Linked DNA regions of Homo sapiens. The protein of the gene in region 1 purifies or fractionates together with the protein of each later gene. This does not show direct contact. Each region holds a gene or a part of one and is shown in the gene's direction. Other genes may lie near its edges.

Evidence for each region.
Region 2: the proteins of AP3B1 (region 1) and AP3S1 fractionate together in Homo sapiens (co-fractionation; 6 studies listed by BioGRID and IntAct, with this or other methods). This does not show direct contact.

Annotation. Positions count from the first base shown.
Region 1 is NC_000005.10:78,291,682-78,298,855, reverse strand, and holds the start of AP3B1 (AP-3 complex subunit beta-1), read left to right. Parts: upstream 1-4,157; 5' UTR 4,158-4,276; coding exon 4,277-4,404; exon of another isoform or gene 4,405-4,416; intron 4,417-7,174. UniProt on the Homo sapiens protein: Subunit of non-clathrin- and clathrin-associated adaptor protein complex 3 (AP-3) that plays a role in protein sorting in the late-Golgi/trans-Golgi network (TGN) and/or endosomes.
Region 2 is NC_000005.10:115,836,951-115,844,955, forward strand, and holds the start of AP3S1 (AP-3 complex subunit sigma-1), read left to right. Parts: upstream 1-4,984; 5' UTR 4,985-5,087; coding exon 5,088-5,156; intron 5,157-5,536; exon of another isoform or gene 5,537-5,626; intron 5,627-8,005. Other genes in the region: ubiquitin-like protein ATG12, read right to left, coding at 678-814, 4,440-4,602. UniProt on the Homo sapiens protein: Part of the AP-3 complex, an adaptor-related complex which is not clathrin-associated. The complex is associated with the Golgi region as well as more peripheral structures.

The DNA of each region.
Region 1 (7,174 bases):
ACCAGGCTAATTTTTGTATTTTTAGTAGAGATGGGGTTTCACCATGTTGACCAGGCTGGTCTCGAACTCCTGACCTCAAGTGATCCGCCTGCCTTGGCCTCCCAAAGTGCTGGGATTACAGGTGTCAGCCACTGTGCCCGGCCTTGAATCAATTTTTATAACATATTCTAGATAATAATGAGAAAATGTTAACATTCAGTATCTATAAAGTATGCCTACAAATCAATAAAAGATCCACTTAAAACTAAGCAAGTGACAAATGTGCATAATTAATAGAAGAAAAATTCAAATAGCCGTTTGATGTGTGCTTTAAATCTGTTATATTTAGGGTAACCATATATGCCTATTTCCCTGGCAGAGTCCTGGTTTACATGTATTTGTCCAGTAAAATTATGACTAGTATCACTTTTTGTCTCGAAAACTTCCTATTTGGGGCTGGGCGCTGTGGCTTACGTCTGTAATCCCAGCACTTTGGGAGGCCGAGGCGAGTGGATCGCTTGAGGTCAGAAGTTCGAGACCAGCCTGACTAACATGGTGAAACTCCATCTCTACTAAAAATATAAAATTAGCTGGGCATAGTAGCGCATGCCTGTAATCCCAGCTACTCGGGAGGCTGAGGCAGGAGAATCACTTGATCCCAGGAGACAGAGGTTTCAGTGAGCTGAGATCGCGCCATTATTCTCCAGCCTGGGCAACAAGAGCAAAACTCATCTCAAAAAACAAACGAACAAACAAACAAAAAAAGAAAACTTCCTATTTGGACAATACATTTTAATGTCTCTTTACTTAGAATAAATGAGATGCAAGTTTAAATGATAGTAGAGATTTTATTATTATTATTACCAATCAGATTAGCAAACATTAAAAAGATTTATGATGTACATTGCTGGAAAGGGTGTGTTGAGATGGAAGAATATTGGTGAAAGTGTTGGTATTCTCTTTTTATGTTAGAAATTTGGCAATATCTATTAAAATTTTAATTGCACATATCATCTGTTCTAGCTATTGGACTTTTGGAATCTTAACTAATGGGAATAGTGGTGGCGTGGTGCAAAGACATGCATTGACAAAGTTGTTATAATAGTCCAAAACTGGAAACAATTTACATGTGTATCAATAGGCTATTGATTAAATAAATAAAGATGCACCTATGAAATGAAATACTATGTAGATCTTTAAAACAGTGAGATGCAGTAAGATGCAGAATGGTATTATGGTTTTAACTGGTATTTGCAGAAACATGCCATATATCATTTATTTTTCTATGCTTAGAGAAAAAAGCTTGAATATATATACACACTTAACACCTATATCATGAGGGTTAGATGAACAGAAATGGAAACAGAAAATTTGATAAAGGTTTTGTTAAGTGTTAGGGGGAAAATAGTTTTTGGAAAAAAAAAAACAGCTTATTTGGCAGTAATACCAGACACTACGTATACTGGCAGGAAACAGAAAAATCTGGTTTGGTTTGGCAACAGGTGTCAAAGAGTAATCTTTTAGTTTTATTAATGTTTCTTCCAGTTGGAAGTGTGACTTTTTTTCCTCTGTCAGAAAACTTCATGGCTATATAAAAGATTTTTCAGTTCTGGAGATATGGGAAAGCTGGATCACAGCCCATGGAGTTATTACTTTTTATCTTTCTGTAAGAATATACAGTGTTAGAATTCTAAGGCAGTAAGGGCCTCAAGTCCCTTCTTGTCAATGCTCTCATTTTTTTATTTTTTTTTTAGTGATAAAAATAAAGTTTTACCTATTTCATCCAGGAATATATGCTTTGTATCTTATACGTAATATTCCAGAGAAAAAGAAAGTTACCTATACCTCTTTTTTGAAGAATAGATATTCTTAATATCCACACCATTCAAAGACAATGTAAAAACAAAACAAACAAAACCCCAAAAAACAAACCCCCAAAACCCAAAACCCCAATATTGTAGGTCAGTCTCCTACCTGAGTCTGTATGAAAAAATAAAAATATTACAAAATAAAATCAAGCAGTTAATTAAAAATAACAGACTCAATGATAAAGAACTCTTCAAGTCCATCAGAAAAACTACTCAGTGTAAAAGTGGATAAATAGGTTCATGTGCAATTCCCAGGAAATAAAATGCAAATGGAGTAACAATCACATAAAATATTCTCAAGTTCATTATGGCCATGAGAATGAAAATTAATTACAATACAAATAATATTCATTTGTATCATATTGATGACAATTAAACATTTTTAGAAAGCTAAACGTTTGTGAGAATGTGAAGAAAGAAGATTATCCACTGCTAAAAGTATGCTGGAAAAAAATTTAGGATATCTGGTAAAAGTGTACATGCTCTAAAACCAAGAAATTCTGTAATCAGGTATGTGTCCGAGATTTTCCAGGCTATGTGTATATCAATGTTCTCATTTTACAAATAAAGTAATCAAAGCCTAGCTCTTTTTACTATTAATATATATAAAACTACTTAGAACTTTTAATATATATTAAAAGTTAACTATTTTAACTTAAAAGTATTTATTTTAACTTAAAATAAATTTTTTTATATTAAAAGTTAACTACTTTAACTATTTATATATATAAAACTACTTAGAAGTTTTAATATATATAAAACTACTTATATCCTGGTATATATTAAGGATTATATAATAATATATAGTTATCTATGATCATCCTCATCCTCATCATCAATAGTCAGTTGTAGGTGAAATTCTATTAATTAATACTGACAAATAACACATTTTAGGTGCTCATCATTGGCTCTCCGGAGGAGTATTCTAACAGCTGAATTAAAAACCTGCCAATATTTGACCAGACGATCAAGTTTGGAGGACGTCCCTTCCTCTCCCACCCAGAGCCACGCTCTTGCGTGCTTCCACAGTGACAGTGTGACCTTTTGAAATTTGGAGATCATACTCTCATCCTTGAAAACGCCCCACCGCCTTCCCTGGGGCGGCCGGCCTCCAGGTTCGCGTTCTACCTGGTAGAATCCCTTGACAGTTTCAGTACCTGGCCGCCAGGGCTTTGGGTGTTAATGCCTTCCTTGGACGGGAGGCACTGGGGAGAAGAGAGGGAAGGCGCTGAAACCCACCTGAGAAGGCGGGCTGGGGGAAGGCACCCCGGGAAAGAGGTTTTCTCGGGTGCCAGCACCCGGAGAGAGCTACTCTGGGGCCAGGCAAGCATCCCGCCTAGGCTCCCTAGTGCATATTAGTGAGTAACACGACTGGCGCGCGAGGTGGTCCATTTTATTTTTGGTAGCTAGACGCCAATAGGACGCACCACTTCAGCTCCAAACGGGAACTGGTGGCCCCAAGATGTTTTCTTTTCTTTTTCATTTTTTTGAGACAGGGTCTCGCTCTGTCGCCCAGGCTGGAATGCAGTGGAGAGATCTCAACTCATCGCTACCCCCTCCTTCTGGGTTCGAGTGATCCTCCCACCTCAGCCTCAGTAGCTGGGACCACAGACACGCGCCACCACGCCGGCTAATTTTTATATTTTTTGCAGAGAAAGGGTCTCGCTATGTTGCCTAGGCTGGTCTCGAACTCCTGGCCTCAAGTGATCCACCCGCCTCGGCCTCCCAAAGTGCTGGAATTACTGGCGTGAGCCACCGCGCCCGGTCTGCCCCCAAGACTTTCATTGAAAAGATGGAATGGTCGCTTCTGTGCGGATCCTCCAAACCATCGTTGGGAGAGGCCTCCTTAAAGTCTAGGAGAAAAGTTGTTTGGGACCGATATGAAAGTAAGGCAAAGCCGGATGGAAGAGAGTAGCCGAAACAAGCAAGAAAAGGAAAAGCGATCGTGATGGGTTTAGGAAAGGTGATCTGGCGTGCTAAATGGCATTTCCGGAGAAATCTGAAAACTATTGCTTTACTGAAGTATAGCAAAGAGCTGTCCGGGCTCTGGAAACTCCTTAACGGATCAAAACGGATGCAATGGGTATCCTTCTCCAAAGACACACCTCAAACGGGCCGGGAGCCGGGCAGTTAGCCACCCGCTGCCTCCCCTTCCGCAGTCCGGCTCGCAGCCGCTCAGCTACCTCTAAAGCCCGGAGCAGGAAAGTCCGCGCAGGCCTGGATGGCCCGGGTGGTAATCTAGCAGGCCTGCACACTGCGCATGCGCAGGGGGTGGACTGCCAGGTCGGCTCAGGGAGCCGTGACGAGTCCGGAAGCGCCTGCGCGCGCTCCTCCGTACGAGAACTAGTTTTGTTCCGTGCCCTCTGGACTGGAACCTTTTGGAGAGAACCCCCGGCAGGACCAACCCCGCACCCGCCAGCACCGCGGCAATGTCCAGCAATAGTTTTCCTTACAATGAGCAGTCCGGAGGAGGGGAGGCGACGGAGCTGGGTCAGGAGGCGACCTCAACCATTTCCCCCTCGGGGGCCTTCGGCCTCTTTAGCAGCGATTTGAAGAAGTGAGGAGAAAGGTTTGGGTTGCGGGGATGGGAGGGAGGAGCTGCGGACTCGGAGGAGTGGGCGCCAGGGTGGGCTTCCTGGAGAGGAGCGGGGTCGCCCTGAGGTCTGAGCAGGGCAGGGCGGTAACGTGTCCCGCGGGTGGGTAGGTGGGGTTGGTTGGCGGTGGTGGGAGTTGTGGGAGTTTGGGGCGAATGTGTGTAGGGGTCTCTAGTAGTTTTCAAACTTTAGTGAAAAGGAAACCACTTGGTGAGCTTAGATCCCACCCCTGAAGACACTGATTGAATTGGACTTGGGCTGGGCTCAGGAGTCTGAATTTTGAGCATCGTCTTCTAGTTTATTTACCGTTCGCCGGATCAGACTTTAATACATTCCCTGATTAGGGTGAAAGGAGTGTTTTGGTGAAGGTGAGAGTGCGAGTGTTGCTTGTGGGAAGTTATTTTGTGACCCCGGAGTGTAGGAGCAGAGAGGTGGATTTAGGCTGTTTGAATGGACAAACTGGTTTACACCAGTATTAATGTTCTTGGATTATGTCCTTTGCACTACAGACAAAAACACCAATCCAAAATAAGCATATGAATAGAAAATATTTTAAAAGAGTGTTACTGTGAACAAATCCAAAACTTTTACAGATTAATAATGTGAATTTTAAAAACGAATGTTAAACAAGGTACACTTAGTTTTGTAAAAAGTATCACCGAGAAATGGAAAGAAATCCCAAGTTGTTTGTTTTGGGGGGTGGGTTGGTGGTAGTGGTTACATTTACCAGAATTATCATTTTTACATTTCTCTTATTTTAAATCTTTCATTACTAAGCAATAGGGTCACATAATAGTCTGTCACTAAATTCATGCTAAATTAAGGTAGAATAGCTGTGCTAGTAGCTTTGCAGATCTGTTAGAGGGTATAATTAAAATTTAAATTAAACGTTACTAACAATATTGGGTAGTCTAGAAAGTGCTACTACTTCAAATTGGGATTACATTTTGGCTGTATTGAGGATCAAAATCATATATATAGCATGTAAGATACAATCTTTTCCTTTTTCCCAAGGTTAGAAAAGTTTAAAAGTAAGGTAACTGATTTCATTTTTCATTATATGCATTTGATGATCCATTGTTCTAGAACAAGTACGGAGCTTGTTGCCTCTACTATTAGCAAAATGTTTAGACTGAATTAACCTGTATATCGGCATCAATCTGTTTCGCAAATTAATTTACTTTTATGGTTTGTGAACATCTACGATGTTTTCTCTTAGATTTTTGTCAGATTTGGGGCCAGGCACTGCGGCTCACGCCTGTAATCCCAGCACTTTGGGAGGGTGAGGTGGGCGGATCGCTTGAGGCCAGGAGTTCGAGACCAGCCTGGCCAACATGGTGAAACCCCGTCTCTACTAAAAATACAAAAATTAGCCGGGCGTGGTGGCTCGTGCCTGTAATCCCAGCTACTCGGGAGGCTGAGGCAGGAGAATCGCTTGAACCCGGGAGGCGGAAGCTGCAGTGAGCCGAGATCGCGCCACAGCACTCAAACGTGGGCGACAGAGTGAGACTCCGTCTCAAAAAAAGAAAAAAAAGAAAAAGATTTTTGTCAAATTTGGACCTGATTTGGAAAAAAAAAACAAAAAAAACTTACGGCTTTGACTCTGTGACCAGTGCTCTTGAGGTGACCTAACAGGTTGGATTTAAAATAAAAGTAGCTAATTGATTAGAGGTGATATGTAATATATGCAAATAACCATGGTTGAATTGTGTTCCCCGAAAGATATTTATTGAGTATTTGTGCACACCACTTTACATTTATTATCTCATTCAGTTTTCCTAAACAACCCTGCAGGTTATTACCAGGTACTTCTCTGCTCCCACTTTACACGTGAGGAAATTGGAGCAAGGTTGTTAACTTGGAAAAGGCCACAAAGGTAGAACATTGCACTGCCTGAATTTGAACTCAGGGGCTCTAATATTAGAGCCCATTCTCTCAAAAGTTTAGATGTGCTACTTACTACTTGATGAAATGTATGGTATTTTTATTAGTGAGTGCATACAACTCACAAAAAGTTTAAAACTTTAAATAGTAGCTCCAAGTAGTACCACCAGAGAAGCTTCCAGGGATTAGAAACATTTGGCTATTGACCTGCAGTCTAATGGAATTGTACAGAAACAAGGAGACCCCTGTTCTGGAAGTGGTCATTAAATCTCTCTTGAGTCCACATTTTCTCATTTATAAAACCGTAATATTACTTGCCTTTTAAAAAATCGAATGACAAAGTTTATATAAAAAACTTAAAGCTTACCCTATTCCTCACCTCTGGTTTTTAATGGTTTACTCTGATGAAATAGTTTCAAGTTTACAAAAAAGTTGCAACAATGACACAGAGAGCTACCCTTTTGCAGATTTACCAATTAAAAAAAAAATGCTACATTGCTTGCTTACTCTCTCTGCCACTCACTCTCCCCATGCATATTCAGGCACATATACGTATTCATGTTATTATGTCTTCTGAACCATTGGAGACTCAGTTGTACACATCATGTTCTTTTACAATGAAAATCTTAATGTGTAATTTTTAAGAACAAAGATATTCTCTTACGCAACTACAGTGTTGATGTATTCAGGAAATTAATCTAATTTTATCCTTTGTTCCAATAAAGTGTTTTTTTTCCCAAGCATTTTTTTCCTCAAGTACAGTTTCCAGTCCAAGATAATATATTTAATTTAGTTGCCATGTCTCTTTAATCTTCTTTAATCTGGGATAGTTCCTTAGCCTTTTTTGTC
Region 2 (8,005 bases), about 38 Mb from region 1:
CACAATATATGGCAAAGATACATTGCTTACCTCAAGAAAAATAGGAAAAAAGTAACTGCTATCAAAACAAACTGAAAAAATCCAAAACTTCTGTAGTAATGTACAGATATTGCAATGCTCTATGATAGATTTTTATGCATGGGTATTCATGCATACTTTCATGTGACTTTCTGAGGAAAACAATACAGGAGGCAAAAAATAAATACATAAACTGGTTCACATTGTAAAACAAATCTAAAACATTTCATTTCAGAATTCCCCAGAGAATCCTTTGATAAAGTACATAAACTCCACTAACAAGAGATAAGGCAGGGCACAGTGGCACACTCATGTAATTCTAGCACTTCTGAGGCGGCCCCGTCTCTACTAAAAACACAAAAATTAGCCAGGCTTGGTGGTGCACTCCTGTAATAATCCTGGCTACTAGGGTGGCTGAGGCAGGAGAATCGCTTGAACCAGGAGGAGAAGGTTGCAGTGTGTCACTGCACTCCAGCCTGGGCAACAGAGCGAGACTGTCTCAAAAAAAAAAAATGAATAAATAAAAATAAAGGGATAAAAGGGCATAACAAAAGCGACATATGTGGCTCCATATGCATTTCTATAAACAACAGTTAATTCACTGTTGCCTAGGAACTACTGCAAATTTTTGTAGGAAAACATCACCATTGGTTTCATACCAACTGTTCTGAGGCCACAAGTTTAAGAAACTTTTTGATGAAGTCAATGAGTCCTTGGATGGTTCGTGTTCGCTCTACTGCCCACTTCTTTGTTTTCATAATAGGAGTGTCTCCCACAGCCTTTAGCAAAATGTCAACTGTAAAAGAAGAATAAAATTTACTGACAATTACACTGAAACATCTAAAGAGAATGGAATATAAAAGACTTAGAAATCAGAAATATTTAATCTACATCCATCTTACGTATTTATGATACTGAAGATATGTGAGAGATGTAAAAATGTTAGATTCTTTTCCATCATTTTTTTCTTGATCCTACAAAGTTCTCCCAACAGGACTAATTTTTAAAATGCCTTTTATCTTAACAGGCAGTTCCAAAGAGAGGAAATACAAATGATCAATACACAAACAATATTTAAGTTCACAAAAAGCAAAGTAAAATAATGTCATGTCCCTTTTCACCCACCAAACTAGTTAAAATTAGAGTAATTACCAGTGTAGATGATACTACTTTTGAGAATGTAAAATGGTATACCCTTTGTGGAATGCAGTATGGTAATACAGATCCTAATAAAGGTATACTTTGATTCAATAATACTTCTAGGAATCCAGTGTAAGAAAATATGAGATGTGTGAAAATTCACTTAAAAAGATTTCACCTCCATTTAAGCATTTATTTTTATATGAAACACTGGTAAACCTAAATACCCAAAAAGGATATTTGGAGGTGACTGATTAAATAGAATGTAGTAAACCGCATACACTTTTAACTGCCTGGGGTTCGAATCCTGGCTCTGCCACTTGCTGGGTATATATGTGGATATTTAATCTCTCCAACAGCATGTATAATATCTTAAATTCATTAAAAACCATCACAAACACATTCACATAAATATGGAAGAATATGCAACAAAATGATATTTCTCAGTAGTGACATTGTAGGCAATGATTACTTGGATTTACTTATGCTGTTTGTAACTACCAAATTTTCTGTAATAAACTTTTTAATAAAGGAAAGCAATAAGTTATTAACAATAGAACAACCAAAGCCAAAAAGAAGTTGCAGAAAGAGAAATCTTAAGGTTTCAACGATCCAAAACACAGATATGCAAACCCAAACCCTATGAATCTGTCTCTCAGACATAAAGTTATTTGCTAAAACAAAACAAACATACATCTGGCTGGGCGCGGTGGCTCACGCCAGTAATCTCCACACTTTGGGAGGCTGAGGCAGGAGGATCACTTGAGGTCAGGAGTTCAAGAGGGCCCAGTCCCCTTCCAACTTCTTGTTCACGACCAGCCTGGCCAACATGGTGAAACCCCATCTCTACTAAAAATACAAAAACTTAGCCAGGCGTGGTGGTGCATGCCCGTAATCTCAGCTACTTGGGAGGCTGAGACAGGGGAATAGCTTGAACCCGGGACGCGGAGGTTGCAGTGAACCGAGATTAAGCCACTGCACTCCAGCCTGGGTGACAGACTGAGACATCCTCTCAAAAAAAAAAAAAAAAAAATCTACAGTCAAAAAGCAAGACACATTGAAAGCAAAACAGTGTATTGCTGCCCCCTAAAGTTAACTCTATTCTATTACACCCTTCTTGCTCCATTCTTTAGGTATTAAATATTGGGGCCAAAAGATCAGAGGTCATTTTATTCAAGTTTACTCCTGGAATGAACGCATCTAGAACACATGATCTTTATCTTCCTACTAAAGAACTACTTAATTATCCTAGGTCCAGTTATCTTAGGAATAGGAATGAATTTGGAGATAACGTGGGATTTTAGTTAGCCTATCTTTCATACCTCCTTTCACTGCTCCCTCAAATCCCCTGGGGCTATCAATAAATCGATTAATTCAATTAAACATTTCCAGAAAGTGAAGCAGGAAATATCATGAGTTATGCTACCAAGGATGAAGTGTAAGACAGTGAGAAACCAGAGAAGGAAAATAATTTAATTATAGCTGCCCTCTCTTTTTAATTTTAAAGGTGATTTGCTTGTAGTTCTGAACCCGGATACACATTAGAATCAACTAGGGAAACACTTACTCCCCAGGAAACCTAACATACCTCCAGTGCCAAAACCTTGGTCTGTTTCAACAATCTTTCTTCTGTAGATTAACAAAGGCTGAGGATACAAAACAGTTAAGCTGCTTTCATCATATTATCCTCAACAAATAATGACAAGCACAAGGTAGGAATAGTTAGAAACTAAGTTTTATATTGGAGAGGCAAACTCAAATGCTAACAAGAGCCAGAAAATAAAAATCTCATCCTTAAATGACAGTTCAATTTGCAAAAAAATACTGTCCAGACCAAGAAAATATGCCCTCGGGCAATATTTAGATTGTAAGCCATTTTTTTTAGCTTTTGTTTTGCACAGCTATCATCAGAGTCAAGTAACAAGTTTTGACTAAGACTGTTAGACCTTAAAACGAATCTCCGAACGTCCGCTCTTGCCTATAGTAAATTGGAAGAAAAAATGCAACAAAACACTGTAAAACCTGCGGAATTCTTTTGAAGAAAGATTCCAGTGGCTATCCATGGAAATACTTATAGTGCATCAGGTGGAAATGGGAGTCTGATTTAAAGTGGGAAGGGGGGCAGTCTTGGGAGAGAATTATCCTCCACAGTAGCAGAAGTTGAAGAAAAAGCAATGAGACCAATGTCTTTTTTTTTTTTTTTTTTGAGGCGGAGTTTCGCTCTTGTTGTCCAGGCTGGAGTGCAATGGCGAGACCTCCGCCCACTGCCACCTCCGCCTCGCGGGTTCAAGCGATTCTCCTGCCTCAGCCTCCCGAGTAGCTGGGATTACAGGCGCGCGCCACCACACCCATCTAACTTTTATATTTTTAGTAGAGATGGAGTCTTACCATGTTGGCCAGGCTGGTCTCGAACTCTTGACCTCAGGTGATCCACCCGCCTCAGCCTACCAAAGTGCTGGGATTACAGGAGTGAGCCACCGCGCCCGGCCAGAGACCACTGTCATCTTAAGACAGAACGGGGAAAACGTCTAAGGACGAAATCAGCCTCTCTGAATCGAGGATGCTTATATGCTGCTTTTCCCATAGGCAACTCTAACTCTAAACAGAGTGCTTTAGAACACGTAATTTTAGCAATCTCTTTTACAAAGGGAAACATTCTCAAGCAATAAAGGGTTGAGGATAGCTGACTCAAGCAATGAAATAACTCACAAAGGTTCCAAAATGTGTTTCTTAAAAAGGTAACATCTATGCCTTTAGCTTTCCCTTAGCAGTCTTCATTCTGCATAAGAATTTGGTTTTTGGTTTAAGGAGTGAATTCACAACCAACTGGGAGGGGGAAAAAAGCAAAAGCGAGTTAAGTTGGAAGGCATGAATTCTAATCCAGGCTTTGCCAATGACCACCCCTACCACCATAAAACATTACTCAAATAATTAGCTCCTGTGTTAAGTACCTGGAATTACCGAGACCCCCCTCCCCCCGCCCCACTCAGCTCCCTCCCTCCTTCAAAGAGCTCGCAGTCTGGCCAACTCAAAAAAATACAGTATAAAAATAAGTGTGGCAGCCAAGTATCAGGCCCTACACCGATAGACAGAGATGGTATTTTAACACTCAACTTAAAGGCCTTAAAAATCAAAAAGTACACTTCTTTTCTTCTGATGACTGGTCAAAATGCAGGTCTAGGACAGGCGCTCCTCTAAATTTTGCTTCTTTACTGGCCGCCACCCCTACTCGGATGCAATCTGAACCTCCCGCCTCTCTGCCCGGAAATAAATTCAGTTACTTTTTTTCTTGGTGTCGCCAGCAGGTTCCTCTGTTCCCGGGGAAACTGCAGCGGAAGACGGGGGCTCCGGGGTGGTTGTTTCTGGGGAGACATCCGTAAGTCCTTCCCCTCCAGCAGCAATTGAAGTAGGAAGCTGCAACACAGACTGCGGCTCCTCCGCCATCTTGCTTGGAGACACTCGAGAGCGGAAGTAGCGACTGAGCGCGTGCAGTGGGCGTGCTTTTCTCCAGGGAGCGTCGCAAAGGAGGCGCCGGAGTAGGGGGACGCAATTACACAGTGAAACTTGGTGTTCCCGGCTAGTCATTCAAATCGAAGCTGTCGCAGACCTCTGAACGTTAGTAACGCAACATGTGTTTCTCCGCGACTACAGACCTCGGGAGAGGAGCGGTGGGCAACGTGTCTGTGCTCGGTCGAATGCGCACACTCCAGTTAGGCCGCTGGCTCGGACCTAGAAATGTTTCCGCTTTCCTTAGTGCCTGCCCCGCCCAGGCCCCGCCCCTTGGGCCCCGCCCGACGGCTCGGGAGCGCGCGCGGTCGCGTGCGGGAGGGGGCGGGTGGGGAAGGATCGCAGGCGAGATTACGAGGCGAGGCTCGCGCGCCCGCCCCCGCCCTGGCCCCCAGTGCCCACCCGGTCGGCCCGGCACAGCCATGATCAAGGCGATCCTAATCTTCAACAACCACGGGAAGCCGCGGCTCTCCAAGTTCTACCAGCCCTACGTGAGTATCCAGCCGCCGCTGATCCGGGCGAGGGGGAGTCGTTGGCGACGGGCAGCGCCCAGCGCGGCTTTCTCAGAGCGACCCCCTCCGGCGCGCTGCGGCCCTTGTCCCGTCCCGGCCGCCTGGCGCTCGCCAGCTGTCAGCCTCCTGGTGGGTGTGGACAGGGTGCCCACCTCCCTGCCGCGCGGTCAGCCACCGACGTGGCTTTGCCCGGGCGGTTCCTCCGCCCGTCGGTGGGCTGCATGCTTTCCTGGCTGCGCGGGCGAGGCCCTGGAGACTTCCCGGGGCCCGGCCCTCGCCGATCGGGCAGCCGCAGCCCAGCCGCGCCGCGGAGCCCTGCGCCCAGTCCCCAAGAGCCCACCCCGCGCGGCTGCCTTCCTGCCGCCCGCGGCTGCAGTTAGCCCGGGAGGAGGAAGACGGCGTGGAACTCGTTCTTCTCGCCCCCCTCCGCCGACTCCCATCCTTTCCAGGTGGACTTCTTTCTGTTCTTTGGACAGATGGGCTACCGTTTTTCACTGTGGTCCTCTCATAGCACAGGAACTTTGGCTTCCTGCGTTTGATAACTGCACGTTCTGTACAGTCTCTCTTCTGCATGTTTCGATACGTGACAGACTGCCCAGTGTGACTTTCAGGTGTCTCCTTATTGAAAAGGAAGATATGTGAGGACCTAATATTTTTATCAGGCTTTTTACCAGCTGGCTGCAAATTATTTACCCTCGAAGTAACCGGCGACGTTTGTAGTTGACTGATTGGAGCTGTGGTTCTATACCTAAAAGTTATGATTTCAGCTTCTGGTTTGGCATTTTTCCACGTATGGGAATTTGCCCTCATTTATAGTTTTTTTCTATTTATGAAGAATAGTAGCATTTGTAGAACTTCTCTTTTAACGTGTAAATACTGTTTAGTATGGACAAGTGCAGGAGGCATTAAGGTAGTAGAGATAAGTGATTTGTTGATGATCGAGGAAGGGTTTTATAGAGTTATGTGCTTACCTGAGGGCAGAATTCGCTAGCTGAAACACATAAAATTGGACTCCCAGTGGTAGGATTAATGTGAGGTATAACTGTTGTGTGGTATTGTGGCACTTTGCTTATAGCAAGAAATGAGCTTTCAATTCAATTTTGAAATTGTGCCAAGGCTAACACTTTTATGCAGATAAGTCCCAGATGGAAATCAATCTTGCCATTACAAAGTAAATGTGAAAATGTCAGTTTGCCTAAAATGATAATGCAGTCTGGAGGTGTTAGTTGAAGTGAGAAATCTTGAGCTTATTCTTCATTTTTTTCAGTTGTTTTGCTTTTGCTAGCTATAAAGAATATTTTCTGCTACTCGTGTGTGGTTTTAATTTAGTATAACTTCAATACTAATGGTCTGTTTAAAAATTCTACATCATTCTTTAATCCAGATTAAATTCTAGTTGATCCTCCCGAATGGGAAAAAATGCCATTAACTTTACCTGTTTGTTAAAATATAGTACCAGCCTTTATTGAAGGAGTCTTTGTCATAACCATTTTGCCAGTGTCATCCATTTGCAGTGTAAAAAAGGTATGTTGCAATAGTAAAACAATTCAAAAAATTATTTTTCCATATCTAAACTTAAGCAATATTAAAAATAGTGGGTTTCCTGGCTAATCCATGTAATCGGTGTATACTACTCGTATAGTGTATAATTTAACTATCTATTGAAAAATGCATTTAATTTAGAAACTCAGAAATCTGTCTTTCCCTTGTCCAAAAGTGGGAACAGAAGTATTGTTTACCATCACTTACTAGGTAGCAGTGACGGTTAATGTGGGAAGTGGCAGTTTTGGCAGGAGTGGCAGCTCTGGTGGCATTTTTGGCCATTGTATGAGTGACAGTGCCACTGAGGGCACAGAGCTAGAAGATATAAAAAGAAGAATCTGGTGGTCACTGGCCGTTTATAGGTGGAGTATGAGAAGTTGTTTCTGTGTTTTAAGTTTCTATAAGTTGGGTTTTGCCGAGTGTTTTTTTGTCTTTCAGGAATAATTTAAGATTATTTATTTATACATTTGCTTCCTCCACTAGACCATAACCTTTTTGAGGGCAGTTATTTTTTTTCAGTCATTCATTCCATCAGTTTGTCAACGGATAAATTTAATTTATGCCTACCATGTGCAGGCACTGTTTTAAAATCTGAAGATGAACAGATAACTTTCGCTCTTGTGTGAGGAACATAGCACTATTAAGGAGTAGGCTGTATTATAGCATGCCAGATAGTATTACGTGCTGTGGAAAAAAAAATAAAGCGGGTAAGAGTCTTAGAGAGTGAGAGGATGACAGTTTAAAATAGGGTAGTCTGGTAAGTTCTCACTGAGAAGGTGGCATTTGAGCAAAGACTTGAAGGAGGTAAGAAAGGCAGCCTTGCAGATATCTGGGGGAAGAGCATCCCGGGTAGAAGGAGCAGCAAATGCAAAAACCCTGAGGAGAGCGCCTGTTTGAAGAACCCCAGGAACTTGTACATAGCAGGAGCAGACTGTGTAAGGGAACATTAGTTGGAAGTGTCTGTTTGTGTAGGGCGTCATTCTATTCTTGCTGCCTGGAATGTCCTTCCTTTCCATTGCCACGTGTACAAATTCAACCCCTTGTTCTAGGCCCAGCACAAACATCACCTAAACATTCCGTGAAGCCTTTGATCTTGCTCAAAGCCTCCTCCTGGTTTTTAGGATTTTTTTCATCTTTGTTATGACACAGTATTCTCGTTCACAGCCTATAATTCCTCGTGGCAGCCATCCTATAGAATACTTGAAGGAACGTATCAGATTTTAGGTATATTTTTGTCATTCTAAGCAGTCAACACTGAGTCTTGAACATAGAAAACTCTCTAACTC